7 separate regions of the Homo sapiens genome follow, and regions 1, 2, 3, 4, 6 and 7 are each reported to be linked to region 5. The links are microRNA targets in miRTarBase. Many come from high-throughput screens and were not tested one by one. Region 5 holds a microRNA gene; each other region holds the end of a gene's coding sequence.

Region 1 (4,489 bases), not on the chromosome of region 5:
GTAATATACTGTGGAAGCTGGAGGTTTACTTTTCATGTTTTAGTTACTTTCTTGCAAACAGCAGTCCAGGAAAGCAAGCAAGCAGGTAAAACTCCGGGTGTGCATGAGGAGATGATCCAAGGCCAGTGGGCCTCCCAGTGAGAACCAAACAGGAGTGGCCAGGCTCCACTCCTGGGGCCAGAGTGAAACCGGGGTTTAATCACTGGGCTATGTGGTCTCTGTGTCTCTGGCCTGAATGAGATCTCTTCAATGTCGGGGGACAGGGATCCCTGGAAGAGCGTGAAAAATACAGTGGTCACTGTGCAGTTCTCTCTGCTGGAGCCTGTCCTGCCATCATACAAGGTGCTGTGACAGCAATGCAAGGTGAAAGGAGATCAAATGGCCCAGCTCAGCAGTTAGTGTTTGTCCCTTTTTGCTCTTCAGAGTTCCTGAATGAGAGCTTTTCTGGCTTCAGTACCAATGATCACAGAAGGAACATCTTCCTGATGCAAGCTTAGATGGAAGTCAATGACCCTGGCAGTGCTAAGAACAGAAGTCACACGTGGCCTGACGATGAAGGGGAGGTAATTAAAGACATTTCAAGGGAGGGGAAGGCCCACGGAAAACTGGCAACCCTGGGTCTCCGTTTGAGGCCAATATACTTTGTGTTCCTAGGTTCAGATGGCATACACCGACAAGAGAAGGCAGAGACCATCCTTCGTGGTGAGCACAAAATGCTATGACAGGTAATTGCAGAGAGAAAAAAGCACCCAACTCTGTAAAGCCAAGTCCAGTCACCCATTCACAAGAGTCCAAAATCCTTCAAATCTCTAGGGACAGAAGACAAACGTGCTGCCCAGAATGAGCTGAGACACAAGGCAAACCCTTGGAAATGACACATGGATGAGGAGGCTGTGGTTGTCCCTCCTTATTCCTGCTGGATTTGCAGCCACGGCTCTGGATCTGGGGCATCTACTGGCCTCCCCTGTTCACTCAAGAGGCCACTGCCTCTCAGGAGTCCAGAATGCTCTGATATCTGACACCGGTGGTCAGGAAGTTATGCTGCCCTCTCCTCTTGAACAGCTAAGATGCTTGGACACTAGACAGAGGCAAAGCAGTTATGCCAGAAGCAGGGGAGAGTCATTCACTGTCAGATCTGTCTGTTCAAAGAGCTCACATTAGACCAATCACAGAAAACCACCAGACTCACACAGCTTGTATTTGAATGAACCAGGAGAGACTTCAAGGATCAACTCTAAAGTGCTAGAAGAGAAATCTGTGTTTGGGGCACTGAATAAACAAGTGATGTCCTAGAAGATCAACACCCCATCAGTCTTAGGAGTATGACCCTATTCATGGACAAGGGGTTTCAATGGACAGCCTGAGTGCTCAGCCCCCCATCCTCCTCTCCTAGCAAGACAAGCAGTCTGTTGCTCAGAGGGGGAAACTGATGTCATTTAACAGGAGGTCAGGATTTCTGGTTCTACTTCAACAAACAGTGCATAATTTTGGACACAGCATCAGATTTCCTGACTTCTTACAAAGGACAGCTAATTAAAAACGTGTCAATCTGTAGTAATTAGTTGGAGATTAACAAGGGCAGAAGAGAATCCAAGTCTTAAAACTCTATGTGGGATACATTTCTGATGAAGCTTCTATTTGACTAATATACTGTGATGATGGCACTATTCGATTTTAAACTATGGAGACAGCTTTTATTATTTCGATTTGGATCCTGGTAAGTGGTGATACTGCTATGTAACAGTTAAAGCACAAATGTATTGCCATAGTTAAGGTTGAAGAGTTATGTCTATGTGTAACTAAATTCTTCTGGATTCAATTACAAATACGTTTTCCTTTACAAAGATGGCTTTGGAGGGGTGCAAATGCTACGTGTTTGGAAGAGCAGAGGAGGCCTGCAGCTCTCAGTCACCTGTCTCCATCTTCGGAGGTAAGTCTGCTCCCTGCTGGTAATGCCTGCATCTGCCCAAGGGCCTGTTCCTCCTCTCCCAAGGCCTTCACAGCTGGTGTTCACTGGTTGGCCCTCCAGCCGGCAACACCTCTCCTCCTCTCTGCCTAGAGGCAGCATCTCTCGGCTAGTTAAGTACATACTTGCTCCAAGACAACTAGACCCCCAAACAGAATTCTAATCATATGCTCCTCTAACAAGCCAACCAGAACCTTCCAAAAAGGTTTAGGCACTAAAGTCAGTAATCACTAGGAGTGGTCTAGTTGGGGAAGTGGCAAGAAATGTCTAGAAGGAGCCAGCGTAAGTGGGTAAACAGAGATCCCAAAGAAACACCAGAGAAGGCAGACACCTGAGCATTTTAAGCTGCTCTAATGAAATGGAAGGATGTCCCTTAATACACTTATAGACCTATCAGAGCTAATGCTTCCAAGATACCAACACGCCAAAGGCTAGAGTTTTACTAACCAAAATGTCTTATAGCAGTTTATTTGCACTTAAAAAAAGTCAGATTAGGGCAGTTGATATGCAAGGGGAAAATGAAGCATTGAGGCTGGACAACAGTCCATGATATCTAAGTTTCACCTTGGGAAAACAGAGACACTGCCTGAAAGCGCAGGGCACTTCTGGGCACCCACATTGTCTCCTGCTCCAGAGGATATGGAAGGGTGGGTGGAGGGAAACAAAGAGCCTGGGGGGAAAGGAGGAAAAGCGGTCTCTAGCCTTATGCAACGTACACCCTTTGGACTCAGAACTCTCAGTGGACTAACGTGGGTCACCTCTGTGTAGCTCTGCTCTGTGCTGGAGAGTCAAACCTGGAATTCCGGCAGCTCTCTGGAACTCAGCACAGCCCGCAAGGTTGAAAGGCCCAGGACAACACACCTGATCCCTTCCCCTCCCTATTCTAAAGGGAGAGAAACATGACTTTATGGGCCAACTGTGAAAGGGACAAGTGAGGCTGACCTGACAAAGTCAAACGCACTGGGAGAAGGGGAAGGAGGAACGGCTGAACTTTGGACAGCTGAGAGAAAAGCAGCATTGTTTCCATAGCAGAACACTCAGCATCACTGGTGGGGACTTTCTAAGGTCAGACCCTTTTGACTGGGAAAAGCAACACACAAGGCAATATGGTTTTTCCCTTTCAAACACTGTGGCTTACTTGTTTACTCAACTAAGAAAGAAAAAGCAACCTTATTATAGAGATTAGCAAGAGATGAAGAAAATTATAGGGAGGCTGCCCTGGCCCAAAGGTCTGCTAATGGCTTCTGCAGGGAGGATGAGGATGGTGCTAGGTTAACTGCTTGTCTCCACTACAGACCAGAGAACGTCCATGCGATGCCTCTTATCAGTGAGGTAGATAATCATCCTCTTGCCAGAGGTATCGAGTGCCAGCCCACAGCACAGCAGAACAGGAGAACGAGCTGCCGGGCTGCAGGCACGAGCTGCCCCTCAGGGCTGCATCCGACACACGGCAACCCCACCAGAACTAATAGGCTGCTCCAAGAAAATGGAACCCAAGGGAGAGGGACTCGTGCCCTGAGACCTGCACCACCCCGGCTTGCCCTGCCTTGAGATGCAGAATTTGAAAGCAGCTGTCACCATCACTCATGTCCACAGTGGAGCTTGCTTCTGTCCTGTCAGACATACCTCCTGCCACCACGAGAAGCTGAGTGAGGGGTGGGAAGGGAAGAAGAGCCCAGAGTGAATATTAGGAGGAGGAGGTGGAAGGGCAAGGAAGGCTGCAGAGCAAAAAAGTTTAAAGTAGGTCAAGTTCAAAATTATATCAAGGAGATAAGAGATGGGAGGCAAAGGCTCCAGAAGAGGAACAGAGGCGGAAGGAAGAGAAGCTCCAAGGTGACGCCCACTCTAGGACAAGATGATGGGGAGGAGGTGAGGCTGCCCTGGTGGCATCACTTCCCATGTAAGTCACTCAGCTCCATGTCATCCTTTCGGCGCTTCTGGGTGAAGAGGGAGGCGACAGGGTAGAGCTTGGCCTTGGCCTGGAAGCGGTATCCCGCGATGTCAATCTCATACTCTCCCCGGTTGATGAAATCTGCTGTCACCACTTGCTCTTCCCCCGTGTCCTCAGAAAAATTGTGCACAAAGCCCAGGCAAACGTGGCGCTCCAGGCTGTAGCTGTAGGCACTGCTGGTGGTCTTGCCAACATACTGCCCATTCCGGTAAATGGGCTCTCCCCACCAAGGCCAAAGGTCTAGGTCTGAATCATGGTCGTCCAGGATGAACATGGTGAGGCGTTTATACACTCCATTCTGCTTCTGCTGCAGGAGGGCGTCGCGACCAATGAAATCCATGCCCTAAGAAAGAAAGGAAACGCCGAGTCATCCAGCGACACTCAGACCCTCGGCACAGAGAGCAGCACCGTGGGAAGGGTCCCCTGGTGTCACTGCAATGGGGCACAGCCGCCTCCTCCCACAACCCTGCCAGCTTTTGGGAAACTGTGCGATTTCTACCATGTGAAAAACTGCATGTGAAATATAAAAGACGCCGCGGTAATTTTTGTAACAACAGAGGTACGCATTTTGT
Region 2 (4,519 bases), not on the chromosome of region 5:
TTATTTCAGTAAAAAGTTTACTCTAGTTTTTCTAAACTTATTTGACCGTGGAATTATTTTTTCTCCCTGTGGAACATGTCGCCATCTTTTGGAACAATTTGGGAAACTTTAATCTTCTATATTTTACAAATTTTTTTGTCAAAAGTTTTTAAAAAACAAAGCATTTAAAGAAAATTGCTTTTCTGAAATGTTCTACTTTTGATGATGCTAGACAGTGACACTTACAGTAACATCCATTGTTCTTAAGTCGTTTTTTAAAAGTTGTACTTTTAAAATGATTTTCATCTCCTGGTTTTGGACAGTTCATTCATTGTGGTATGTTTGCTTATAGGGCACTTGATGACATTAGTGAAAGCATCAAAGAGCTTCAGTTTTACCGAAATAACATCTTCAAGAAAAAAATAGATGAAAAGAAGAGGAAAATTATAGAAAATGGGGAAAATGAGAAGACCGTGAGTTGATGCCAGTTATCATGCTGCCACTACATCGTTATCTGGAGGCAACTTCTGGTGGTTTTTTTTTCTCACGCTGATGGCTTGGCAGAGCACCTTCGGTTAACTTGCATCTCCAGATTGATTACTCAAGCAGACAGCACACGAAATACTATTTTTCTCCTAATATGCTGTTTCCATTATGACACAGCAGCTCCTTTGTAAGTACCAGGTCATGTCCATCCCTTGGTACATATATGCATTTGCTTTTAAACCATTTCTTTTGTTTAAATAAATAAATAAGTAAATAAAGCTAGTTCTATTGAAATGCAAACCTTTTTGTACCATCTATTCTTTAGTAGTTTAATTATTGGGAAAAGATGGCTTTTTCTTTTTTAAGTGATATGGCTAATGTTTAAACTCTTGTAATGCAATTAGGAATCGGTTAATAAGTTCATGTCAAACAGGAAGTGAATATGTTTTGCTTTAGAATAACCGCAGATAAGTTTAAAGAAGCAGATTTGGGCTCGTTGTTAGAGTTATTGAATTAACAGCACTGGACTAGGCTACTCTGCTACATTCAGGAAATTCAATTCAGACGGATTCTGTAACTAAGGTTTATTGCAAGTAATAATTAGGGCTTATTTATATGCACAGCAGTGACTGCTTGGTTTACAGAATGTAAATAGCTTGCTGCCCTAGTTCTAATGGTCAGTAAGTAGCTGAGAAAGGATTTCAATTCGAACATACTAATTCCTAAGTTTACGTATTCTAGACCACAGTACTAAGGTGATTTCCTAGCCAGAGTGTGCAATAGAATCATCTGTAGAACACATCTCATTGCTTTGTGCACCTCATTCTGACAAATTCCCCTTGAAGACAAATCAGAATTGGGAAAGGCCCACAGGTTACTTTCCTTTCCTTGAGAACCACTAGGTGAGAAGACTTCTGTGGTGATGTCAAATTACATTTCATATTACAGATATGAACATAGTAGCGTGATCCTGATGTGTGATAGTTACAGATAGATCACTAGCTAGTAGATCAGAATAACCCCATAATATTTTCATTTGAGTAACATTTTAACATGTACTAAGTTGTGTTACCTACACTACAGCTGTATCAGTGGAGAGAGGGATTGTAGTGTAACTTTTTCCAAATGAGTGAATTAAGACTGAAATTCATGAGTCTACTAAGAATGAATTTATGAAAACATAAGTCTGCTGATCTTTTTGACCACTTCTTTCTGGAATGGCATGGGTTTTAGCTTATGCACCAACTTCAGTGGCTTGGAAGGCAGGATTGGGTAGTACAGTTGACCGTTGGACAACACAGGTTTGAACTGCAGAGGTCTACTTACATGCAGATTTTCTTCTGCTTCTGCCACTCCGGGGACAGCAAGACCAACCCCTCCCCTTTCTCCTTCTCAGTCCACTAATGTAAAGATCATGAGGATGAAAACCTTTATGATGATCCACTTCCACTTAATGAACAGTAAATTTATTTTCTCTCCCTTAAGATTTTCTTAACTTTCTTTTCTGAGAGCTTACTTTATTGTAAGAATATAACATATATATTGTTCCTGATGTTTGTATAAAAAATATATTATCTCTTACATATAACATACAAAATCTATGTTAATTGACTTTATATTATCAGTAAGGCTTCTGGTCAGTAGTAGGCTATTAGTAGTTAAGTTTTGCGGGAGTCAAAAATTATATACAGATTTTTGGTTGCACAAGGGTTTGACACCCCTAACCCCCGTGTTGTTCAAGGTTCAACTGTAGTTAAGAACAGGGCTCTTGAATCAAACTCTTAATTCAAGTTCAGGCCCCTGACATACTGAGTGACTTTGGCAAGTTGCTTTTCTAAGTCTCAGTTTCCATATCTGTAAAATGAGGTTAATAACGTTACTTAATGAATTGTTAGAATTAATTTAAATGCTATTCATACAGTTCTGAGCTCAGCACAGTGAGCATCGTGTAATGATAGCTAATGAATATTGATAATAAAGGGTACTATGATTAGTTATGAGGCTGGAGGCATTATCTTAAATCAGCGTTCACTTAATGCCTATGACTGCCTACATTGTGCTGAGGACTGTAGTAAACTTCACTAATAGTGTGACCTTGACTTGGTTTAGTGTTTCCAACTAAATTTGGCAAAAGGGTCTTTGCCCTTACTTGGCTTTCAGGAATGTTAAATTCTAATGTGATGATAGATAAGAAAACACTGGGCTTAAGAAGGGTTCGTAGGAACCAGATACTGCTATTAATGAATGCCTCAAGGTTTCTTCCACACAACTGGCTGGTTTATTCACCTGTTTAACTGTTCAAGCCAGTTTAAAAATTTTTAACTCCTGGTGTTACTGCTTTAATGCTGTCTTCTGTATCTTAATTGTGTAGCTAATTCTATTGTCCTTTAGTGGAGCTTGTGTTGAATTTTAATAAAATAACTGGTAGCCTGTGAGTTAAGCAAAACCAGTCTAGTGCAGGTATATATGAAGACATGCTGGTTCAGTGATTAGTTCATTATTTTTAAGTATTTTTAAGTTAAATTTAAATTTGTAGTGCTGGTATTTAGGATTTCACAGGGGATTCCTGAAGCTATGAAGTAATTTCTGTGAAATGAACTGCAGTGCAAATTGGTTTAAATAGAACTACAGCTTGAAAAATGATCAGTATATTTGCTTAGTAGAGCTTGCCATTCTAGTGCTCTTGGGGGGCCTCTCATTTGCTGGTTCGTTCGGTGCAGTAATTGTCCTGCAAGCTATGTTCTTAGGATCGTCCAGGTGTATTTCCCCCTATTAAACTCAAGGTGAATGAATCAGTACAGATGCATTTTGACTTACAGTGGGGTTACATCCCAACAAACCCATTGTAAGTTGAAACTATTAAGTAAAAAATGCATTTAATAAATTTAGCCTACCAAACATGTTAGCCTAGCCTACCTTAAATGTACTCAGATCACTTACATTAGCCTATAGTTGGGCAAAGTCATCTTAACAGAAAGCCTATTTTATAATAAAGTGTTGAATATACCATGTAACTTAATACTGTAGAGAAGGTGAAAAGCAGAACGGTTGTATGGGTAGTCGAAGTACGATTGAAATAGTATGAGCAGACTCTAGCGCTCTCGCCAAGACACTGAACAGCAGTGCTGCTGCCTCCTGCACCCAGAGTGTTTGCTATTACCTGACCTAGAACATCTGGAGCCCATAGATCCTAAAGAGCAGCTTTTTGAGGAATGCAGGGCTGTCGTGGATACTTAACTTCCCTGGTTCCAGAGAGATTTTGTGGATCTGAGGACAGACTCCAGTAACTACCTACCTATTAGAGTCATGCAATGGAACAACTTCATCCAAGCTCTTGGAAAGACAAAGACAACTTTGTACAATGCCCTGTTGAAACACTCAAGTGAGAAGAAAGGAAGCTTCTCACGCTAGAAGAAATCCTATTCTACCAGCCTGATATATTGTGCCTCCAAGAGGTAGAACAGTATTTTGAAACCTTCCAACCACTCCTCAGGAGGCTGGGCTATCAAGGCACATTTTTTTTCCCCCAAGCCCTGGTCATCTTGTCTAGGTATAGAATACAACAGTGGACCAGACAGCTGTGCTTAATTTTTCCTCCAAAACCAAATCAGGCTAGTGAACAGTGCCAATATTAGGCTGATGGCCATGACATTGAAAACTAATCAGGTGGCCATTGCACAGTTCCTAGAGTGCAAGGAGTCAGACCAACAGTTCTGCATCGGTGTCACCCATGTAAAAGCACGCACTGGCTGGGCGTGATTTTGATCAGCTCAAGGCTGTGACCTTCTTCAGAACCTGCAAAATGTCACTCAAGGGCCAAGATTCCCCTTGTTGTTTGAGGGGACTTCAATGCAGAACCAACACAAGAGGCCTAGAAACACTTTGCTTCCTCCAGCCTCAACCTGAACAGTGCCTACAATCCCCTGAGTGCTGGTGGGCAGTCAGAACCCCCATATACTACCAGGAAGATCTGGACCCCAGGGGAGGGCAGGCACACCCTCTGGTATTCTAAGCATGCTCTAAATGTAAGGTCAGCTCTTGATCTGCTCACCAA
Region 3 (4,519 bases), not on the chromosome of region 5:
GCTATAAAGGCTGAGAGGTGAGGAAGCTGCAGAAGAAAAGTTGGAAGTTACCCAAGGTTGGTTCATGAGGTTTAAGGGAAGAAGCTGTATCTGTTAACATAAAAGTGTAAGATAAAGCAGCAAGTGCTGATGGAGAAGCTGCAGCAAGTTATCCAGATAATGATGATGGTGGCTACAGTAAACAATAGATTTTTCAATGTAGATGAAACTGCCTTCTATTGGAAAATGACACCATTTAGGACTCCCATAGCTAGAGAGAAGTCAATGCCTAGCTTGTTTCAAAAGACAGGCTGACTCTCTTGTTAGAGGCTAATAGAGCTGGTGACTTCAAGCTGAAGGCATTGCTCATTTAACATTTTGAAAATATAGGGGCCTTAAGAATCATGCTAAGTCTACTCTACCTGTGCTCTATAAATGGAACAATGAAACCTGGATGATAACACATCTGTTTACAGCATGATTTACTGAATATTTTAAACCCACTGTTGAGAAGTACTGCTCAGAAAAAAAAGTATTCTTTTCAAAATCTTACTGCTTATTGATAGTGAGCATCAGAGTATATGGTCACCCAAGAGCTCTGATGAAGATGTACAAGATTAATGTTGTGTTGTTTTCATGCTTGCTAATATATCCATTCTACAGCCCTTGGATCAAAGAGTCATTTCAGCTTTCAAGTCTTATTGCTTAAGAAATAAATGTCATAAAGGTATAGCTGCCATAGTGATTCCTCTCATGGATATGGGCAAAGTAAACTGAAAACCCTCTGGAAAGGATACCGTTAAGGACATTCATGATTCATGAAAGGAGGTCAAGATACCAACATTAACACGGGTTTGGAAGAAGTTGATTCCAACCCTCATGGATGACTGGGCGTTTGAAGACTTCAGTGGAGGAGGCCGGGTGTGGTGGCTCACGCCTGTAACCCCAGCACTTTCGGAGGCAGAGGCGGGTAGATCACAAGGTCAGGAGTTCGAGACCAGCCTGACCAACGTGGTGAAACCCTGTCTCTACTAAAGATAAAAAAATTAGCTGGGCACGGTGGTGCCTGCCTGTAATCCCAGCTACTCAGGAGGCTGAGGCAGGAGAATCGCTTGAACCCGAGAGGTGGAGGTTGCAGTGAGCCCAGATCACGCCACTGCACTCCAGCCTGGATGACAGAGCAAGACTCCTTCTCAAAAAAACAAAACAAAACAAACAAAAAAGAGACTTCAGTAGAGGAATTACAGGCACATGCCACCACACCCAGCTAACTGTATGTTTAGTACAGATGTGGTTTCACCATGTTGGCCAGGCTGGTCTCAAACTCCTGACCTCAAGTGATCCATCTGCCTTGGCCTCCCAAAGTGCTAGGATTACAGGCGTGAGCCACTGCGCCTGGCCCATGGTAAAGTATTTTAAATTAAGGTATATACATTGCTTTTTAAAGACATAATGCTATTGCACATTTAATAGACTACAGAATAGTGTAAACAGAACTTTTATATGCACTGGGAAACCAAAATTCATGTGCCTCACTTCATTGCAATACTAGCTTTATGGTAGTGGTCTAGAACTGAACCCTCAGTATCTGAGGTATGCTTGTATTAATCTGCATTTACAGACAAATTAAGGCACAGAAATGATCTTACAGTCACTTCAGCTAGAGTGAAAATTCAGATAATGCCTCAGCCCATGCTTCTAACCAATCATACTGTGAGTGTAGCATGCTGGTATTCTCAGAACTATTTCCTTTATCCAGAACAGTGCTAAAATTTTTTTTTATGGTAAATGGTTTTAGGAAAGGCATTTAGGTAAAGCACAATCCTCCGTTTTACACCTTACTTTACATATTTACCATCCCTGCCAAACCACTCATTTTGACATGGAGCATTTCTATTACAGAGGGTGTAGTTGCATCTCACTTTATTTAAATATTTTCCTCTTTAGCCTTTGAAAGCTCCCACATTAACTGTATCTTCTCCAGTGAGTTGTAGTTCTCACACAGAACCATTACCCTTCCAGTCACTAGTGTATTTAAGCTCAAGTGAGTAAGACTAGTAATGATTAAAATGAACCTCACAATAAATTTTTAGCAAGGTAAGTTTAAGTCCCATCAATATTTTCAATAAATACTGGAAAGATGCTAAAGGCAGCTTCCTGCTGTAGTGTTTCTTGATGTATGGATCTTTGCTTTATTAATTTGTTAAATGAGAGCTGATGAAACTATTTTCCCCCAAATAACAGTCATAGAAACATGTTACCTATTTGAAAGAACAATACCATTAGTTAGTTAAAAAATTTAATTGTAAGGATCAAGCAGTGGTTATTGGTGAAACCAATACACACTGACAGCTTTGAAGTGTTCAGATGCTAATTTTAAAATAAATGTGACAAATACCAATCAGATGTTCATAACACTTTTCAGGATCCACATCAACTTGATTATGGACATAGTTCAATACACAAGGGTAAGAGAAAGAGTGTGTAATCACCAATAATTAAACCAGAGGCATAATTTTTTCAAATAATTTTTAGTTACAGAATAAATTCTAACTTTTTAAAGTCTAAAGCTACATAAAACTCAAAGCAATCTATTTTTCTACCTGAGGTCAAAATGACTTTCCTTTTTCCTAACTAAACATAATTCTTAGCATTGAGGTAAATCTGAATTCATGTGGTATGCTTTGTCAAACTTTTCCAAAAAATTTTAAGCCCTGCTTTAGAGAGAAATTCTCATGTTACACATATATATTTACATATTTTTTCTTCAAAGACTAATGACAATGTATGATGTTAATAGGCCTGTAATGGAACCATGATACTACTAATAATATGAAATAAAAAGCCACTCATTTATATAAAGTGTTCCTGAATGGTGCAATAAGAAATGGGATCACAGATTTATGTACATATATGAATCACTAAGAGTTCAGAAATTAAGCTCACTTTAAGAAAACTCAGCCAGGCACAGTGGCTCACGCCTGTAATCCCAGTACTTTGGGAGGCCAAGGCGGGTGGATCACGACGTCAGGAGTCCAAGACCAGCTTGACATGGTGAAACCCTGTCTCTACTAAAAATACAAAAATTAGCCGAGCGTGGTGACACACGCCTGTAATCCCAGCTACTCAGGAGGCAAGGCAGGAGAATTGCTTGAACCAGGGAGGCGGAGGTTGCAGTGAGCCCAGATCGCGCTATTGCACTCCAGCCTGGACAAGAGAGCGAGACTCTGACTCCAAAAAAAAAAAAAAGAAAGAAAACTCATTCTATTTTTCTCTTTGGAGCAGAGGTTGCAAAACTGTGATGCCTAACAAAAACGTTGTGTATAAAAGCTCCAAAACCAAGCATTAGCCTAAATTGGCTATAACTGCAACTTAAATCAAAAACTATATCCAACTAGATCTTCGTTGTGGCTATGCAACTTTTTGCTTTGTGGCCTGAAGGTTTTTACTGAGGTAACAACCTCTTATCTCTTGTCCTTCCCTCAACCACAAAAGCAAAAATAAACAACAACAAAAAACACCTCTACAGCTTCCTTCTTCATGGCTGTCTTTGGCAATGCTTCCAAATCTTGAAAGCAAAAGAACCTGCTGAAGTATATGAGGAGGATGAAAACACTAAACATGACATATGAAAACCAATCTAAGCGTATGAATTGAGAAAGAAAATACTAGAAGGAAGGCAGAGCAGCAGTCGGCCCTCAACAGAAAACAAAAAAGAAGGAGGGCTGTAACTGCTCTGGCCCTTCTTCCATATTATCTCCCAATTAGAAGAGCGTGGAACCGAAAACTTAAACTCTGAAAAGGTAATAACTTTCAAGGAGGAGCTACGGAAGTGAATAAATGATAAAGAAGAACAGCAGTAGCTTTAGCTGTCAATGAGTTTCTTTGCTCTGGCATTGGCAATATCAATACGATCTCTGTTGGTGTCAGCCTGAAAAACAAGAAAGATATCAGCTTTACAAGGTAAGTAACTCTAATAAAAATTAAACTTTTTACACTTGGAGTAACTGACACACCAAGAAAATCCAAGAAACCACGTGAAGTTACATTACAAAACTCATGTTGGGCAAGAAGTAACAGAATATGAAATTCATTTGGAAAACCCCTGGTATATAAACATGACAAAGGTGTAACATATAAGACCTTGCCAATATTTCATAAATTCTATAACGCATTTTTTCATAGTTTAACATGCCTGAAACTGGGATGCATCCTGTAATCAATGGCATTTTTTGATGCAATGAAATATGAAAGAGTGCTCTTCTCTGTTAAAGATCTGGACCTTGTGTGAGTCCTCTGAACTGAATCATAGAATCTCATCTGGATTCAGACACCCTAAGTCTAACCTGGAGAGACTGAAATAACCTTTCCAAAGATCTTTGAAACGAATCTATTACCATCCTCACCAACATCTGAATTAAAATGACAGGTAAATATAGCCTAAACCCAGACTGCAGCATTTAAAGCATCTTGTGAACCACTGTTTCAATTAAATCCATCAAAAGTGATTTAACAGAGAGCCAAGCTTAAAAACTCACCC
Region 4 (4,519 bases), not on the chromosome of region 5:
GGCTGCTGGCTTGAATAACTTGGGAAACAGAGTTCTTTGACTGGAAGAAGGAACTGGGGGTGGGGACTGGTTTGGGGTGAAGTGTCAAGAGTGTTTTGAACCAGGCTCTTGATGTCAAATTTGAGAGAAAGCAAACGTTGAGTCTGACCTTCAAGGAAGAGGTCAGGGCCAGAGATTGAGAAGAATCTTCAGCACAGGCCGAAGGTAACCCCAGAGCCACTGCGGCCTCTAGGAGGAGAGTACAGGGGAAGGAGAGAGGGGAGGAGGCTCCAAGCAGGGAGCCTGGGTGGGGATGGCCAGGGGGTGTGAGAGCTCAGTAATGGAAGTGACAGCTGCTCTAAGGCCACCAAAGCAGCTGGTTCCTGAAAGGGGATGAGGGGACAGGAAGGAACCAGTTCCTGTGGTGAGTTAGGCCATGTGGGGCCACTTACCCTGGCTGGAATGGTTTGAATGTGGGTTTGAAAGGGTTTTGACCCCTGTCCGGTGATGGAAGGGGCAAGTCCACTCTCACCAGGAGAGGAGGGCATGGAAAAGGCTGTAGAGCAGTGGCCTCTCACTGACCACTTCTCACTGATGTCAAAGCTCAGCAAGGTCATGAGCTTAGAGCAGGTGGGGGTGGAGGGTTGGGTAAGGCAAGGCTAGGAACAGCTGCTCAGGCAGTGGAGGCGTGAGGCGGACTGTGGTGACACGGGGTGCTCCCTGGTTGCTTGCGGGACTTTCCCCTACAGTACCAGGCCCTGTGTGCAGGGGCAGGCTAGACACTGAGCTGGCACGGCCAGTGCCTGGGAAGCCCAGCTCCTGCAGCTGGGAGCCTGGTCTTCCCCCACCCCTGCAGGGCAGGCAGTGACAAGGACTTGGTGTCCCCCTCCCTGGCTTCCTCCTAGCTTCCTTGCTCAGCATCTACCCTTCTTTCCTTTGCAGGTGTCAGCACAGCGGGCTACTCCTAGGGATAAGCCCCCGGTCCCCTCATCCCTGGCCAGTGTCCCTGACCCCCATCTACTCCTTCCTGGGGACTTCTCAGCCACCAGGGCTGGGCCTGGACTTTCAACTGCAGGTGTGTACCTGGGGCCTGTCAGGGCAGAAAGCACTCAGGCCACTCCCGGACCTGGGACTTGCTATTTACCCTGGTCCCCGAGGGGAAAATAGTCTGAAACAAGCTTACTTCTGTCGCCATAGGCAGCCTGGACCTTGAGGCTGAACTTGAGGAGATCCAGCAGCAACTACTGCACTACCAGACCACCAAGCAGAACCTCTGGTGAGCCCTGCGAAACGCCCTGCAGCCCTGGCTACAGGAGCAGGTGTTGCCTGGAGAGGTGGGCAGGCAGTTCCATTTCCCCCGAGCCAGCTGCCAGGGTCCTGTAGGTGGTCTCGGTCTAGCCATGGAGGGGTGTGGGGAGCCCTCAGTGTGTGCTGTCCAGAAAGACCCCATCTCCACCATGGCTCTCTACCCGGCTCAGTGCTGCTTAGGAAGGCCCAAGTCGTCAGACTCACCTGTGCACAGAGGCTCTGCTTCCTATGGGGGGGACGATAAAGTTGAGCAAAACTCTAAAAACCCGATGAGGCCATGCTGTCCCCAGTGACTAATTATAACACTGATATTAAAGGTGCAGAGAAGGGCCAGGCGCAGTGACTCACACCTGTCATCCCAGCACTTTGAGAGGCTGTGATCCAGGCAGATCACGGGGTTAGGAGTTCAAGACCAGCCTGGCCAATATGGTGAAACCCCATCTCTACTAAAAATACAAAAATTAGCCGGGCATGGTGGTGCACGCATGTAGTCCCAACTACTTGGAAGGCTGAGGCAGAAGAATCGCTTCAACCTGGGAGGCGGAGGTTGCAGTGAGCTGAGATCACGCCATTGCACTCCAGCCTGGGCAACACAGCAACACTCCATCTCAAAAAAAAAAAAAAATGCAGAGGAGACAGGCCCGTGACTCAGCTGCACTCAGTGGTCTGGGGACCATTCAACATGCAGCAACCTCAGAGCTTCCAGGGCAACAGACTGGCGCCTCATCCTTGGCTCTGCACAGGGGGAGAGAGACAAGGAGTGTGTTCTTGCCCAGGCCCACCTGAGTTGCTGTCTGCTGGGGAGGGCGGAGGAGACTGGGAGAGGAAAAAGAACAAGTGTTTGGCTCCCAAGCAGGGGCCTGCAGTTCAGGTCAGGGGCCCTACCAGACCACCTCTCTCCACCCGATACCCGCATCAGAATTAGCTGAGGTGCCTCTCCCTGAGCCGGATGGGGCTCTGCCAAGGACCCAGCCTGGCAGGCAGTGGGTATCTCCACCCCTCAGGTCCTGTCGGCGGCAAGCGAGCAGCCTGCGCAGGTGGCTGGAGCTGAACAGAGAGGAGCCGGGGCCTGAGGACCAGGAAGTAGAGCAGCAGGTGCAGAAAGAGCTGGAACAGGTGAGGCCCCAGGCCATCCCCAGGTGTCCCTGGGGACGCCCCGGGCTGTGCTCCCTCTCAGCCCTGCCTGTCCCTCCATGGCCCCAGGTGGAAATGCAGATCCAGCTGCTGGCAGAGGAGCTCCAGGCTCAGCGCCAGCCCATTGGCGCCTGCGTTGCCCGCATCCAGGCCCTGCGGCAGGCCCTGTGCTAGCGTGTTCGCACCAGGAACGCAGGTGCTGGGCTGTCGGGGAGGCCTCAGGCCACCTCCAGGAACAGAACACAGTTTTAAGTTTGATTTTTTTTATTTCAAAATGCTTTGCAATTAAATGAATTACTGTTCAGAAGTCTCCCACTTTTCATACAAAAATACTGTGCTACTGATACAGTTGAAAAAATTCAATGATGTCTCTCCTGCAGGAGAAATTCACAGCATCCCCAGGGTCAACATGAAATCTGGCCCTGTCCCCGCCACTGGGGGCTCCCCAGGCCTGCGTTCCTGATAAACTGGGACAGGTTTTCCAGGCACTGACCAACTATCCACCAAGGGTCCTCTGCCTCCAAGACAGACCCTGAATCAATAGCAGCAACTTTCCCATATTTCATGTAGGGATATGTGGAGGGGGACAGGAACTCTCCCATTTCCCCAGCTGGGCCTACTACCTGCCTGCCCTGTTCACTCTGGTGCCATGAGGCAGGTTCAGTGATTGATTGGTCTTGCCTGCTGCAGAGGACCTGGCCAGCTCCAGAAGGGTCACTCATCAGGTCCTGCAAAGGTCTGTATCATTAATCAGTGTCATCAGTGTCCTCAGAAGACACTAGCAGAGTCCAGGGTGATGCGTTCAGCCACAAGCACAAAGACTGCTTTTTCTAAAGAGCAGGATGAGGTGAATGTGGGAACGGAAAGCAGTTGTCACGAAGGCTGTGTGGCTCTGCTGGGGGAGAGGCATCCACAGTCTGTGCCAAGGAGGCACCTCACCCTGTGCAGCAGGAGCGTTAAGGCCAAAAAACAAAAGGGGCCAACAGAAAACAGCTCAGGTGATGGGGGGAGGAGCAGCAAGAAAAAACGACAACCGAGACCAACTGAAGGTTCGGTCAGGAATGCAGGCTCTTCCGTCTATACAGTGTTTAAAAAGATCCAAATGTGACTGAGATCATTCCAGCCTGCACTTTTTATTTGTAGGCAGAAGGAACGGGATAGGTTGAGGGGCATGATGGGGGCTCTCGCCACCTCTTGTCTGCACCTCTGGAACAGGTGGTAGCCGAATCATTCAAGTCCTACCTGGTCAGACTCCCAACCACGCTGAGGCAGGCCCTTACCTGGATGGCCTCATGGGCCTCCCTCTTGAAAAGACCCTCACTCTGTTTGGAAAAGATCCCTTAGCAGCCATAATCAGGAAAGAGACTCTAGAGCGAGCCCAGGGCTTCCCCAAAGCGGATTTTCTGTCCTGTTTTCAGCTGGAAATTGAAGTCCTTGGGGGCCTCGAAGATGAGCACGATGGTGGAGCCCAGGTTGAACTCGCCCAGGTGCTCGCCCTTACGCATGGGGACGCCCTCTCTATTGGTGTGCGTCACGAAGCTGAAGTCATTGTAGGAGCCCTTGCTGTGCCTTGGGCTGTTTGTGTGCAGGTCCTGTGGTGATAGGCTGGGGGTCAGTGGGGCCCAGGCCACCAAGTGCACAGTGTCACCCCCACATGTGTTTGGAGTCCCACTCCCTCTGTTGCTTGTCCCCACCACCACCCAACCCAGCTCCAAAAGGGAGGTGGGGATGGCATCTCAGGGCCAGGTGGGCCTGCTCTAGCCAGATCTCACACACAGCCTTGACACCTGCTGTGAACTGGGCCCAGGGAGGACAGGGAACAGTGGGGCCCAGTGGTCTCCATGCATGGTGCTGGGAGAGCAGCACCCGTGGGAGCCAAGGCCGTTGGTCACAAACTGACACCCAAAAAGGCAGCCCCTGGGGGCAGGGTGGGCAGCAGACCTGCGAGTGCTGACCCCTCATGCTGTAACCAACATGAGCCACCCCGAGCTCAACACTCCCTTTCTGTTCCCTCCTCACTCTCACCTTTGACCATGGTTCCTAGCAGAAGCCAGGTGCCAGGCAAGGAGGTTAATTCCCTCCATCTCTTCCAGCCACT
Region 5 (4,519 bases):
TGGCACCATGATATGGTTTGACTGTGTCCCCACAGAGATAATTGAATCATGGGGGCGGTTTCCCTCATCCTGTTCTCCTGATAATGACTTAGTTCTCACGAGATCCGATGGTTTTATAAGGGGATTCCCTGTTCACTGGGCACTCATTTCATTCTCCTTCCTGCAGCCCTGTGAAGAAGGACGTGTTTGCTTCCCCTTTCACCACAACTGTGAGTTTCCTGAGGCCTCCCCAGCCATGCTAAACTGTGAGTCAATTAAACCTCTTTCCTTTATAATTACCCGGTCTTGCATAGTATCTTTGCAGCAACATGAGAATGGACTAATACACACCACAAAAAAAAAAGTTAAGATGAGGTGACAAATATAGGAATCAGCTTGATTTCAACATTGCATAATGTGTGCATATATCAAAACATCACATTGTACTCCGTAAATATATATAATTATTTTTCAATTAAAAATTTTCTAATTAACAAAATAAAAATCACTTCAAATCCTACCTTGAGTTTACTACTTTAATATGTTTCCTATAAGCCTCATTTCCATCAAGTATTTTTTCTTTGCTCATGTGTATGTGAACAAAATCAGGAGATATATACTAATAATTTTTTATTCTGATTTTTTGTATTTAACATTAAAGTATGTACATTGTCATTTTGATTGGCTTTCTTTGATTTGCTTACAGGGAACAATTTGGAAAACAGCACTTACGGACTGTAAAGACTTTTTCCAGGAACAAACAAGACAAGAACTTTGTGCTAATATATTACAATGAACCTAGAAACATTTTTCATATCACCAAAGGAAATTGCAACTGGGGGCAAAGAATACTCAGTATTGGCTACTTTCATGTCACATAATCACTCTTATCTGCATGTGAGACAGCGTCCATAGTAGATGAAGGCAAGGGAGAAGTGGATTCTGAATGGCTTTTGAGTAGTAAATATTCAGTGTCTGTCATATTAGCTCACATGACCTCACAGGCCTTCACTAAAAAAGTGTTTAAGATTTTAAAATACTGGGCCATTGCATTGTCATCTTTATTTATGAACTGTAAGCCTGTCACTTGGGAGCATTTTCAATGAAAACTTCTCATACCTTCAATAAGTTACCCTTCAGTGACTGTTTTTGTTATTGCTTTGTTTTGAAAATTATTTGGGGATAAGGACTACCATTAAATTTTTTCTGTGGTGGGTGTGTTATGTAAAATTAAAGGGTTTAATGCAGTTTATCTCAGTTGGTTTAACTCAACATAGATTGAATCCCTACCAATTGACAAGAACTGTGCAGATCAATCTAGAAATGTACAGTCTAATGTCATTGAGGAGTGCCAAATGATATATTTTCCAAGTAATATAGAGACCACATAGCTTCTAACCTCATTCCACTCACTGAAAATGATGGCTCTAATAATAAAAATTTTCAGGGGTAGACCACTGAAGTTTAGCAACTCCCTAGATTTGGCAGCAGACAGGAAACTGAGAGGGGCACACATTACACTTGAGTTACTTAATTGAAACCTTGCTCCTCCTCCTCCCTCTTCTCCTCCTTTTCTTTTTTCATCCTTTCTCTACACTCTCCCCTTTTTGCTTCTTCTTCTCTATAGAGACCTTGGTTCTAGTGCTTTACTCTCATGTAAAAGTTTGGGAAACTCAAATTTATTTATTAGAACATTATTATTCCAAACACATTTGAGAACATCAAGTTTCTCCCCCAAAATGATAATTCTATTACTTCAAAAATGAACAAGAGAGAAGAAGAGGGGGAGGGAAGAGAGAGAGAGAGAGAGAGAGAGAGAATGTCTGAACATATAGTGGATTAGAATAACTATTTATTTGGAGGAAAAAAGTAGAGTAACGTAATTAAACCCTGAATAATATTTACTGATAGTTTTGTTATATAAATGTTTAAAAATAGAGCCGTGATACCTATTTGGGATTAACAGTAGTTCCAAAGGTAAGAATATATAGACTAATAACATAAATTTCACAAATTGTTGCATTGTGACATTAATAATATATTTCTAAATGGGAACAATTATCAACCACCGATAAACAGTCAAAACAAAGAACCCCAATTTATTCAGAGATGTGTAAAGCTGGGCACACCTCATTCATAGATTTTTTATTTTTAGAATTCTCGACATATTAAATTTTTCTGAGGAAAAAATGTATATTCATTTATTCATACTCATTTTTGAACTAACATTTATTTAAGGTCCACAATATGCTAGATATTTTATATTATTTTTTGATTACTTAATGCAAATATAGCAACATTATGAAGCAAGTATTATTATCCCTGTTTTACAAATAAGGAAATAAACTCAGGGAGGTGAATGTGATCAAAGATAGATATATAGTTAAGAAAGTTAAAGAGACAGGATTCAAGCCTAAGTCTGTCTGACTTCAAATCTCTCTTCTTCCCACTATTTATTGCTCCCTATGAGTTTATATTAATGAAATCTAAAATCCCACTTAAAACCGTATAATGAAGAAATTAAGAAAACCACCTGAGATAGTGATATAATTTTTCTAATCACTAAATATTTTTTTCTTAGCTCTTCTTGTGGAACAATATACAATATGATTCTTGGGATTGGTTGAGCATGTCTGCCTTATTCTAACTCAAATTTATTTAAGATATGTGTTTTATAGTATTCTGCTACTGGAAATATTACAAATACAGTAATAAAATATATCATTTATTAAGTAAAATAATAAGGAACATGAGTAAAACATTTTGCCTATATTATGCCAGCAGCTATGCTATGCACTGGCAACACACACAGGCTTACAATGAACCCAGAGGTGGGAGCATCTATGTCACCAGGAGAAATTTAAGGATGATTTAACATTTAAAAACTATTAATATGGTTTATTACATTAATAGATGAAAGGAGTGAAAAACATGATCAGTGCTTAGCCCATAGTAGGCAGTCAATAAATAGATGCGGAAAAGGCTTTGGTCAAAATTCTAGACCCATTCATGATAAAAGCTCCTTAGCAAACTAGAAATAGAAGTCAGCTCCCTTAACTTAATAAAACCTACAATAAACATACACTAACGGTGAACTGTTTTAACCTTACCTTTTTCACAGCCAGGAAAATTAGAAGTATGTCTAGTATCACCACTTCTGTTTAGCATTGTATTGGAGGTCCTTGGCAGTTCAGTAAGACAAGATAAAGAGTTAAAATGTATAGGATTGAAAAGGAAAAATAAAACTGTCATTGATCACAGATTATATAATTATCAACATAGAAAACTAAAAAGAATTATAGATATATTATTAGTAAGAGAGTTTAGCAAGGTTATTAGCTACAAGATCAACATATAACGTTAATTTTTTTCCTATACATCAACAGCAAATTATTATAAAAGAAAAGTTTAAGAAACAGTATATGATGCCTTGGAATACATAAAAGATGGTCAAGACTTTTTAATTAGTCAGGTAATGTTCGCTATGCTGTGGTAACACATAATCCCTGAAATAGCCATGTTGTAACACAACACCAATTTATTTCTTGCTCCAGTTACAGTTAATGTGAGTCAGGTGGCTCTCTGGCACAGCTTCCCTTTAAGAGCTGACTCAAGATTCCTGGAAGCTTCCAAACTGTGGCAATGCCATCTGGACTACTAGTTAGTTATAGAAAGGAGAAAAAGGAATGCAAGAGGCAAACTGGCTCTTAACTGCCCAGCTACCTGAACTTATCTTCAAAGTAGAGTGGGAAATGCGGATCTGAACATGGATATTTGGTGGACACTATCAGTGTCTGCCAAAAGGTATAATATTATTTAGAAAACATAGTAAAAAATTAAATAAAATGAGTGATATACCCTCCCATTCATGGATGGGAAAGTGAAGTAATATTGAATGCAATTCCAATCAAACTTGCAACAAGGATTTGCGTGTGTATGTGTGTGGAACTTGACAAAATGATTCCGAAATGTATATGAAAGAGCAAAGGGCCAAGCATAACTAAGACAAAAAAAAAAATGAGGCAGAAAGGCTGACTCTACCAGGTATCAATACGTGTTCGAAAGTTACAGTAATTAAAATAACATCATCTTAGTATAGGAATTGACAAAATAGCAATAACATTGAATATAGTCCAGAAACAGATTTCATGTATAAGAATTTAATAATTGATAATGGTAATATTTCAGATTAGTGTGAAAAAGATGATCTCAAAAAATGGCATGAGGAAAATTGGATATTCATATATGAAATTTTATGTTAGATTTCTATCTCACATAAATCCCCCAAATAAATTTCAGGTCAGTTAAAGAGCTAAAAGTTTTCTTTTTTTTTTTTTTAAAGGTATTGTATTAGGGTTCTATAAAGCAACAGAACTATTAGCATATATGCATATGTATATGAAGGGGAGTTTATTAGGAAAATTGATTCACACGATCACAAGGTGCAGTTCCACAATAGGCCATCTGCAAGTTGAGGAGCAAGGAAGTCAGTCGGAGTCCCAAAACCTCAAAAGTAGGGAAGCCGATAGTGCAGCCTTTG
Region 6 (4,519 bases), not on the chromosome of region 5:
GAGGGCGTAGCCAAGCAGCCCAGACCCTTGGGGTCTGCCCTGGGTGTGCTCTGAGCTGAGCCACCAGACACAGGCAGACAAGACAAGGCCCTGTCTGTGGGAAGGCAGCGCCCCCTGCTGGCGATATGAAGGAAATGACGCTCACCCCAGGGAGCCTCAAGTCCTTCCTCAATGTCTGGTGCCCTGAGGGTAGAGGATCCAGCACCATGGGCTACGTGGCCCCTCCCCCAGGCCTGGCGCTACTAGGGACTGAAGCTGTGTGGTTCCCCTGCCCCCAGTCTTTCAGCCTGTGGGACCTTGGCTGGGGTATATAGATGGGAATTTCTGCTTTTAATCCAAAGAGACAGAAAGAAAACTCAGCAAGAAGCTGGGCCACCCCCAACCCATTCCTAAAACCCCTCTGGGTACAAAAGCCCCAGCCTGGCATCTTCCCCACCCTCCAGGACCCACACAAAAACCTAAACAATTGGAAACATGGCCAGATCTCAGGCCTGTGCCAGCGCCAGCCATGGGGGTCCCACCCGCTGGGCACAGTGCCCACGGGAAGGCCAGCTGGACTCTAGCACTAGGGGCAGAGTCTCTGAGGGGGCGGGGTTCTCGCAGGAGGGAGGGAGAGAATGGGGATGCCCTTTCTTCTCCATGGGAACAAGGTGGGTGGTGGCTGCCCGGCACCCTGGCTCTTTGGGAGCTGGACCCTTGAGGGGCCAGGTCACTGGGCCAGGTAGGAGTGAGATGGGACCTGCCCCAGCTGTTCTCAGTATCGCCTCTTTTTCATCCTGTTTCAGTCCTGGTTCCTCTGATAAGATCGACAAAAGAAACAACAAAATGAGAAGAAGAGGTTCCTCGAAAGGGGGGAGAAGAAATTTTGAGAATGGAAAAATCCCCCAGCCCAGCCCAGCCCCACCGAAAAGCAAAAATTACACGTCGTCAGCCACTCAGCCCTTCTCTCCTCCAGCCCGGGGACCCCCGCGGGCCCCAGAAGCAGCCCAGTTCTCAGAGAGCCCTTGGAAGGGGTCTCGGTGGAGCTGTGCACCAGCAGCCAAGCAGAAAGAAACACGCGACATGGACTCTGTCAAGTAGAGGACAGAAAGCAAGAAAGGATGCAGAACTGCCTTCCTCCCCCTGACCCCGCCCCGGCCTTCTGGGGAAGGAACAAAGTCCCCAAACAAAGCAACCAGCACAATTCTGAAGGGGCCTGGCCTCCACCCTCACCCCTTCCTAGGGGAACCCCACCCTCCACACAGCCGGAGCTGCCCTAGGGAGCCTGGAGGGCCAGCTTGTAAAGATGATGGGGTTTAGATCCCTCAGGCTCTCCCCTCCAGACTCCGCCCTTCCCTCCCTCCCTCCCTCCCTCCCTCTCTGCCAAGGCTCCAGCTTCTTCCCCCAGCTGCTCCCGACCAGGAGGGGGAGAGCAGCCTCCACTTACCCCACCCCACCCTTGGGCTAAAAGCCCCCAGGCGGGCAGGGGGTGACCCCTGGAGCTAGTTGCGTGTCCCAGAATGGAGGGTGTTCTGACACCCCACCCTGAGCCGCAAGAGCAGTCCTGGGGCCCTGGACCCCTCTGTACAGTCCGTAGGAAAAAGTCGGAATGCTCTCGACGGCCTCGTCCCAGCCTGGGACAGGCCCCCTTTCCCCTCTCTCTGCAGGCCAGGAGGGCCTCCTTCCTGCCACGAGGGAGGGGAGTCGGGCCCCAGGTCGCCCCCGCCCCCAGCCCTGCATGCAGGTGCCCTCGCTCCGCCCCATCAGTTCCTGCCCCTGCCCCTCATGCAGACTGCCCTGCTGGGGCCGGGCCGGAGGGTGGAGCAGAAAGGGGACCCCGGAGCCGAGCGAGGAGGACCAGGCAGCCGCCGCTGCCGCGCTAAGCCACCACCTGCGCTTAGGTAGGCGTCCTGCTCGCCGACTTTCAGTTCCTTGGGAGGGTGTTGGGTGTCGTCCTTTTCAAAAGTGTTTTGGAGCTTTCTGTGCCCCCCGACTTTCCCCCGCCTCCCCGCCCCCCACGTGGCCACTTTTCTCTGGATTTTAGCTGTAATGTCTTTACTCTTTATTTAGGGGTGGGGCATTCATTGTTTGGGTCTTTTGCTGTTGGAATGGGAACTCCTCCTCCATTTGAGCAACTTGGGAACAATTTGGTAACACACCACAGGAAGTAGCTCTCCCCCCCAGCCCCCTCCTCCCTCAAGGGAGGGTTGGGGGGCCTGTCCAGAGGGTCTTCAGAAGCCCCCCTGGGAGGGAGGGGAGGATGAGCACGCCCAGCTCCCCTCCAGGGTGTGACTTGGCCCCTCTGGCTTGTCTTTCTGTGCCTTACTCCTCCTCCTGCGTCTCCCGTTCCTGGCCCCTTCTTGAGTCCTTGTGCCTCTCTCTTTCTCTCTCTTTCTTAATTGTATGAAAACACAAAGCACAGGTCAGGATCCTCTGAGAGAAAATCAACATTGCACCACGTAGGGGTGGGCTATGGGCTGTATTTATTGTGAATCTAGTTTGTGAGGCTGTGGCCCCGAGCTGGCGGAGGGAGGGAAGAGGAGGGAGTGACGGGAGGGGAGGAGGTCAGCGACCTGGGGCCGTAGCGGCAGGCGAACGGTGCCTGCTACCCAGCTGGAAGCCACAAGGTGGCTGGCTCCAGGGGCGGCTTTTGTTGGAAGTTGAGTGAAGCCCTCCCCCTGTCCTCAGCGTGCAGCCCTAGAGGACCCCAGGGCTGAGGGGCAGTGGATCCTGCGGGAGTCTCCCGGGGCGTGGGGAGTAAGGCCCCGGGGGTGGGGGGCCGGGTGGGCCGGGCGTGACGCGCGGTCAAAGTGCAATGATTTTTCAGTTCGGTTGGCTAAACAGGGTCAGAGCTGAGAGCGAAGCAGAAGGGGCTCCCTGTCCGGCCCACGTGCCCTTTCCCTCGACGACAGTCGAGGGCTCGGGCTCTGTGGGACTGTGGGAGCTAGGGTCTGCGGGGCGCCTGCCCGGGCGAGGTCGGAAGCTGCAGGCCAGCTGGGCCCGGGCCGGAGCGTGCCCGGCGGGGCTGCCCGGGCGGGCAGGGGGTGGGGGCTGCTCCTTTCCCAAGTGGTGTTGTGAGGGGCAATGAGGGCAACAGGAGATGTGGGGACGTGTTAGGAGAGAAAAAAAAAAAAACAAAAATATATATGGGGGAAATTAACTTTTTTTTTTCATTGAACCAAGTGCAATGCATCAGAGAGTTTTCCTATCTTTGTATGTTAAGAGATTAAGAAAAAAAAATTCTATTTTTGTTGTAATGTCCTCGCGGCTCTGGGGACGCTAAAAGAACCGGGCCTGCCCCGCCCTGCGCGGGGATAACGAAAGCTGAGTGTTTTTCCCTTTTTTTTGTTCGTTTTTAGTTTTTTTTTTTTTAAGTCGTTTTCCTGCGTTGACGAGGATGATCTGGGGTTTTTATTTGTTTCGTCGTTCGTTCTGTTTCGGTGGGAGGGCTGAAGGAAACGTTCACATTTTAGAGTTTAAAAAAAACACCTCGACATTTAAAAAATCAACCAACACAAGATCAAAAAGGAAAAGGACGAGAGAAAAATTATTTTTAAGATAATTAAACATAAAACCCTGGTGCTTCTTACATTATAAAGTACGTTTTAAAGAACCCACAAACTATTATACATAAGTTTATGAATCAATTAAATATCCTGCACTTGTTAGGAATACGCATATCCCTTCTTTGTTGAGTTTAACGGAACGGGACAGCGGCGTGCCCCCGGCGGCTGGACTGCTCCGGCCGCGGGTCTCCCCGGGCGCCCCTCCCTGGGGCCCAGCACCCCTCCTCGCCCCATCCCCGTCCGGGTACGGGGGCGCGGCAGGGGTCCCCGGCCCCTCCCCCGCAGAGGTCAATGCCAACGAACAAACGTCCCCTCCCTCCCTCCCTCTCCGCCCCGAGCGCCCTTCTTTGAGCCAGACGCCAACTTGACCCTCACCAGCATTATCAGGAGCGCGCTCAGCAAGTTGGTAGTTTCCTCCCCCCTTTCCCGGCGCCCCTCCCGCCCCCATTCAACATCTCTCATCCTATCCCCGACCCCCTCCGGGGAACACCGGGAAGGCTCGACGCTCCAGGACAGGACCAGCCACGCTGACAGGTCGATTTGCCCAGGCCCGCGCCCGCACGCACGCACGCACACGGCCCCGCACACAGCCCCGCCCCACCCCGCAACCAGCCCTGTCGACTGCCTTATACACCCGCCCCCGCGCTGGCCGGCCGACCTAGTGCCTTGTTCTCACCCCCGTGCTGGCGGAGCGGACGCCGCGCTCTGGGTCCCAGAGGGGCCGGGTGGCTCAGACGACCCACCACTCCCCCACCCTGACCGTGCTGAACAGACCCCCCCACACGAGAGAAAATAAAGGAGCAATAAAGTCACGAGAACTTTCGTCCCCCAATCGAGAGCCCGAGGGGCACCCCAGCCCCGCCTCTGCTCCCCCCCACCCCACCCACCCTCGGGGCGCCCCCCTCCCCCCGCAAGCCAGCCTGGGCCAGCCCCGCTTCGGCCCCTCCCGGGAGATCCGTGCGCCCGACCAGCAC
Region 7 (4,519 bases), not on the chromosome of region 5:
CAGGTGTATGTGCTCAAGAGGCCTTATGTGGATGAGTTCCTGAGACGCATGGGGGAACTCTTTGAATGTGTTCTCTTCACTGCCAGCCTGGCCAAGGTACCTAGGGGTGAGAGGGAAGAACCAGGAGTGGGTGTGGTGGCCACGGGGGTGGTCCAGCAGCTCCCTTTTGGTCCCTAGGGTTATACAGGAGGACCAGGAGTGTATCCAAACTAAGGCATCTTCTCTCCTCCTAGTATGCCGACCCTGTGACAGACCTGCTGGACCGGTGTGGGGTGTTCCGGGCCCGCCTATTCCGTGAGTCTTGCGTGTTCCACCAGGGCTGCTACGTCAAGGACCTCAGCCGCCTGGGGAGGGACCTGAGAAAGACCCTCATCCTGGACAACTCGCCTGCTTCTTACATATTCCACCCCGAGAATGCAGTGAGTGCTCCTGATGCGTCTCCACGGTAGGGATTGGGAGAGGAAGCAGACTGGAACTGTGGGCTCCACCAGAGAAGTACACCCCTCCAGGAAGACCCAGCCACCCTCTAGGGCTCTGGGGCGAGGGAGGGGGAAGCAGCAGTCGGGAGATTGACACCACATCTTCCCCCCACCAGGTGCCTGTGCAGTCCTGGTTTGATGACATGGCAGACACTGAGTTGCTGAACCTGATCCCAATCTTTGAGGAGCTGAGCGGAGCAGAGGACGTCTACACCAGCCTTGGGCAGCTGCGGGCCCCTTAGCCTGCCCTGCTTCCAAGCGACGGCCATCCCAGTAGGGGACTTTCCCACACTGTGCCTTTACGATCAGCGTGACAGAGTAGAAGCTGGAGTGCCTCACCACACGGCCCGGAAACAGCGGGAAGTAACTGGAAAGAGCTTTAGGACAGCTTAGATGCCGAGTGGGCGAATGCCAGACCAATGATACCCAGAGCTACCTGCCGCCAACTTGTTGAGATGTGTGTTTGACTGTGAGAGAGTGTGTGTTTGTGTGTGTGTTTTGCCATGAACTGTGGCCCCAGTGTATAGTGTTTCAGTGGGGGAGAAGCTGAAAGACCAAGACTCTTCCCAAGTTAGCTTGTCTCCTCTCCTGTCACCCTAAGAGCCACTGAGTTGTGTAGGGATGAAGACTATTGAAGACTCCATTGCCAAACCATGGCCTTTCCTCAGTGTTGTAAGGCCTATGCCAAGGATAAAGGAAGGGTATGCCTTTGGGTACTCCAGGCACACACCTTTCTGAAATCCTTCTCCAGCCAGCTGCTGCAGACAAAAGATCACATTTCTGGGAAGATGAGAACTTGTTTCCAGACCAGCATCCAGTGGCCATCAGGTCTTGTGGCCCAAAGGCTATGCTTGCCTCCGGCTGAGTGCCTGGGATAGGCCTTTTCTATGTCTCCCCAAGGCTGGGGTGCTGAGCCTGCCTTCCTCACCACCTAGCCATAGTCTCAAACCTGTGGGGAAGGAGGTTTTCTCCCTGCCCGGGAAGAGGACAGATAACTGATTTCCGTTCTTTTGACTGTGTTTTAAAATTCTCTTTCTAAACACAGAGTGTTGGGCCTGGTTTGTTTCTGACAAAGTTACAGTCCTGGGCCTGTAATGAATGTCGGCGGCGCTGGGGTTGCAGGGAAAAGACAAATCCTCAAAGCGTGGACGTGTGTCCCCATGGCTTGTGGATCAGCTAAGCTCGGGATCATTTCCATAAGTCTGCTTTTCAGGGATTCTCTGCTGGTGCTGGTGCAAGGACTTCTGTTCCAAAGGCTGGGAAAAACTAAGCTGTCCCAGCCCCTCCCATTTCTTGGGCAGGGCTCTTTTCCTGTTGTGTCTTCCCCCAGGGCCTGTCCTGTACCGAGCTCTGTCTGTTCCAGCCTTCATCCTTCCTGGCTGTTGCTTTTCCTCTTAAGGGCCTCAGAACTCTTGCTCTTCCTGGGCTGAGGGGGAATGAGTGTTCTTGCCATTTGCCAGCCTAATGCGCATGCTTTCTGCCTCTGGTAACAGGAGTGAGTGAGCCCCTCAGACCTGCACTCTGGGTGTCTCCTGCTTTCAAAGGTTCTTAATAGTGAATGCTTTAAAATTAAAGTCATCACGAAATGGAAGTTTTCCCAGGGTGGAAAATAAGAGGAAGTGCTGCTGTAATTGGGAGCACAAGGGGCCTCCCAAAAAGGAGCCCCACCTCAGCATCACTGCCTTAATCGTGGCCTCCCTGGGGTGGGTGGGGTTCTCTCCTCCCTCCCTCCCTCCTCCTGGGGTGGGAGGGCGCTCCTGTTCCCATCTCTGTGTTCCCTGGAGGCAGGTATCACAAAGCATTTGTGAATTGCTTTAGGTGCAGGGACACCACCCACTCAGGACTCTTCCCCATCATCCCTTCCATTGCCACACCCTAGATCCAGCCTCAGGAACTAACAAGTTTTGAGAAAAGCAGGTAGTAGAGCAGCAGCTTCGTGCTCTCAGCGGTGGCTGGCTGGCATTTTTCTCTAGCGTTGTGGTGCCACCTTCCCTTCTTGTCCCAAGGTTATAAGGCCTTGTCTTTCTCTTTGGAATCATAAAGTGGAACAGAGTCCCCAGAACTCATGTGGCCATTTCCGCCAGCATCACTCCCCGGTGCCTATGGGGTCCCGGTGTACCTAAAGGGAGAAGGACCCCATGTGCTAGCCAGAAATATACTGTCTCTTGAAGGAAAGCAGGAGCTCAGACTCTTAGAGCCAGCTGTGGCTTCGGACCCAAGGCCTGACCTAGGCTGCTATCCTAATATTGCAGGAGGGGCCTCTCTTCCAAGCCCCACCCTAAGGGTTAGCCCTTGGCCAAATCTTTTGCCGTCTAGGCCCAGCCAGGCTTTTCTGACTAAATAAGCAATAAGAGGCTCTAAGCTGACTGAGTTGCAAGGACCCTTTCCGCCCTCCCTTGGATCTCCATGTTTTTCCAGATGGCGGAAGAGCATGTGCCACCCCCTTTCCTAACAGACTTGTCCAAGTGCTTGGCGTGGGACCCATGACCAAAGCCCAGGATGGCTTGGTGGGAGTGTCCCTGCTGCATCTGCATGAAGCCCCTGCTTTTTAGGCCTCACTCCCATCAGAACCCTGCCTGCCCACCTGCAACTCCCCCCCAACAATGCCATTCCCACTTGCCCCAGAGAAGCTACTCGGCCAAACCTAGCCAGGGTCTGTTCTTGTGGACCAGAGCCAGCCTAGTCATTATTTGCTGTCGGGTTTCCAGTTTCACCGTGTGTTAGGGTGAGGGATGATTGTAAAATTTGCTCCTCAAAGGAATCAGGCCAGACTCAATTTTGGAGGGCAAGACAGGGAGGAGGCCGCTTCATCCCAGACTCTCTTCTAGGGCTTCCCACCATCAGCCCCTCCCACTTGAGACTGGTCTTTGGGAGGCAATAGGCCACCATGCCTGGTCAGCACCAATTCAAGCCATGCCAGGAATCTGCCTACCTGCCAGGTTCAGTTCTTTTAAGGTGCCTCTTCAGGGACACAGTGTGTCTCTCTGATTGGGCTTCTAAATCAAAAGCCTGATGTTCGTGTCCCTCTCATAGGGGGAGCTTTGGACACAGGACCAGTTTGGAAAAGGGTCAGGTAAGGGTTTCCACTCTGCACATTGTAGAGGGAACACTCTGTAGGCCCATGGGTCCCTTACTAGAGAGGTTGAGTGAATTTGCCTTCAGTTAACATGGGACCTTCTGTTTAGCTTCCTCTTGCTTCCCAAAGATTTTAAGCATTTTGTAAATGTATAAACTCACCTCTGGTAACAGTGGCCCAGACGCTGCTTTGTGCTAAAAGCATGGGAAATGTAAAGGCAGTCTTTCTCTGGGAAATGGATGCTATTCTATTCTGCTGCCCCTACCTGTTCCTGAGGCCTCATTTAGAAAGAAAATCCCCTCAGAAGGCTGTCTGGCACCCAGTGTCCTAGCCAGGCCAAGTATATGAGAAAGGTAAGTCCATTTTCCCCTTCAGGTCCTCAGTGGATTACTTAACCACTGCTGTCCCTCGGTCCCTTTTTCCTAAACGGGTTTAGTTCTGTCTTTTTTCTCCTTTTTTCTAAATGCTGGTAAATATTTACATTCAGCCAGGGAAGAGGAGGCCAGAGGTCGGGCCAGCTGCCCCATTCTTTTAACGTTGTAGGGCCTGCCCATGGAGCGGACCCTCCTCTTTGGGCCTCGTGAGCTTTTTTGCTTATCATGTTCCATTTCGTGCCGCTTTCCCCCTTCAAGATGCCATTTGGAGGGTAGGGGATCTGCTTCCCACTGTGACTGGGCTATGGGATTCTGACTACCTTGCTTACAGATTCATGGTTTGATAAATTTGTTGTATTCAAAAACTTGAAATGCAGGACGCCATTAAGTGTCTGTTTATATTTTTGGAATATTTGTATTACTTACAATTAATTAATAAAAGTGGGTTTAAAAAACCTTTCCAGGAATGTGAGCTGCCACCAACCTTCATTGGCCCTTAAGTGTTCACTGGGCCCATGGCAAGCACCGCCTTTCTTCTCGCAACCCCTTCCATCATGAAGCAGCTGCACCCCCGGGCTGAGTGGGGTGTT

Evidence for each region. The annotated mature microRNA hsa-miR-1321 reads CAGGGAGGUGAAUGUGAU and lies in region 5 at 2,328-2,345, shown strand. An mRNA with a match to its seed (bases 2 to 7 or 8) in the 3' UTR can be bound and repressed. Matches are read on the target gene's strand: a 7mer-m8 pairs with bases 2 to 8, a 7mer-A1 pairs with bases 2 to 7 and ends in A, and an 8mer does both.
Region 1: the mRNA of PDPR is a reported target of hsa-miR-1321. Seed matches in the 3' UTR shown: 7mer-m8 at 3,215-3,221, 8mer at 3,172-3,179 and 7mer-m8 at 582-588.
Region 2: the mRNA of REXO2 is a reported target of hsa-miR-1321. The part of its 3' UTR that is shown has no 7-base or 8-base seed match.
Region 3: the mRNA of SNAP23 is a reported target of hsa-miR-1321. Seed matches in the 3' UTR shown: 7mer-m8 at 3,138-3,144.
Region 4: miRTarBase lists PISD as a target of hsa-miR-1321. The part of its 3' UTR that is shown has no 7-base or 8-base seed match.
Region 6: miRTarBase lists NFIX as a target of hsa-miR-1321. Seed matches in the 3' UTR shown: 7mer-m8 at 1,335-1,341, 7mer-m8 at 1,339-1,345, 7mer-m8 at 1,343-1,349, 7mer-m8 at 1,347-1,353, 7mer-m8 at 1,351-1,357, 7mer-m8 at 2,170-2,176 and 4 more.
Region 7: miRTarBase lists CTDSP2 as a target of hsa-miR-1321. Seed matches in the 3' UTR shown: 7mer-m8 at 2,173-2,179, 7mer-m8 at 2,199-2,205, 7mer-m8 at 2,203-2,209, 7mer-m8 at 2,207-2,213 and 7mer-m8 at 2,870-2,876.

The regions. Positions count from the first base shown.
Region 1 is chr16:70,156,246-70,160,734 of GRCh38, reverse strand. It overlaps PDPR (pyruvate dehydrogenase phosphatase regulatory subunit), which reads right to left. Exons shown (of 19, transcript NM_017990.5): 19 at 1-4,260. The coding sequence ends at 3,856. It overlaps LOC400541 (a long non-coding RNA gene), which reads left to right. Exons shown (of 3, transcript NR_126007.1): 2 at 1,846-1,930; 3 at 4,231-4,395. Among named protein-coding and RNA genes, the nearest start is that of CLEC18C, 15 kb to the left of the region's middle.
Region 2 is chr11:114,449,515-114,454,033 of GRCh38, forward strand. REXO2 (RNA exonuclease 2) reads left to right here. Exons shown (of 7, transcript NM_015523.4): 7 at 332-765. The coding sequence ends at 461. It also overlaps the pseudogene LOC100422382. Among named protein-coding and RNA genes, the nearest start is that of REXO2, 12 kb to the left of the region's middle.
Region 3 is chr15:42,530,804-42,535,322 of GRCh38, reverse strand. It overlaps SNAP23 (synaptosome associated protein 23), which reads right to left. Exons shown (of 8, transcript NM_003825.4): 8 at 2,265-3,910. The coding sequence ends at 3,845. It also overlaps a transcript of LRRC57 not described here. Among named protein-coding and RNA genes, the nearest start is that of LRRC57, 16 kb to the left of the region's middle.
Region 4 is chr22:31,615,824-31,620,342 of GRCh38, forward strand. PISD (phosphatidylserine decarboxylase) reads right to left here. Exons shown (of 8, transcript NM_001326411.2): 8 at 2,668-4,013. The coding sequence ends at 3,789. It overlaps SFI1 (SFI1 centrin binding protein), which reads left to right. Exons shown (of 33, transcript NM_001007467.3): 30 at 922-1,054; 31 at 1,177-1,255; 32 at 2,292-2,403; 33 at 2,491-2,765. The coding sequence ends at 2,595. Among named protein-coding and RNA genes, the nearest start is that of MIR7109, 3.4 kb to the right of the region's middle.
Region 5 is chrX:85,833,505-85,838,023 of GRCh38, forward strand. MIR1321 (microRNA 1321) reads left to right here and starts at 2,276; the gene lies at 2,276-2,354.
Region 6 is chr19:13,093,850-13,098,368 of GRCh38, forward strand. NFIX (nuclear factor I X) reads left to right here. Exons shown (of 11, transcript NM_001365902.3): 11 at 786-4,519. The coding sequence ends at 800. Among named protein-coding and RNA genes, the nearest start is that of LYL1, 6.7 kb to the right of the region's middle. RefSeq lists a silencer at 1,669-1,758 and enhancers at 2,070-2,933, 4,179-4,318.
Region 7 is chr12:57,819,804-57,824,322 of GRCh38, reverse strand. CTDSP2 (CTD small phosphatase 2) reads left to right here. Exons shown (of 8, transcript NM_005730.4): 6 at 4-96; 7 at 234-419; 8 at 596-4,396. The coding sequence ends at 721. Among named protein-coding and RNA genes, the nearest start is that of MIR26A2, 2.6 kb to the left of the region's middle.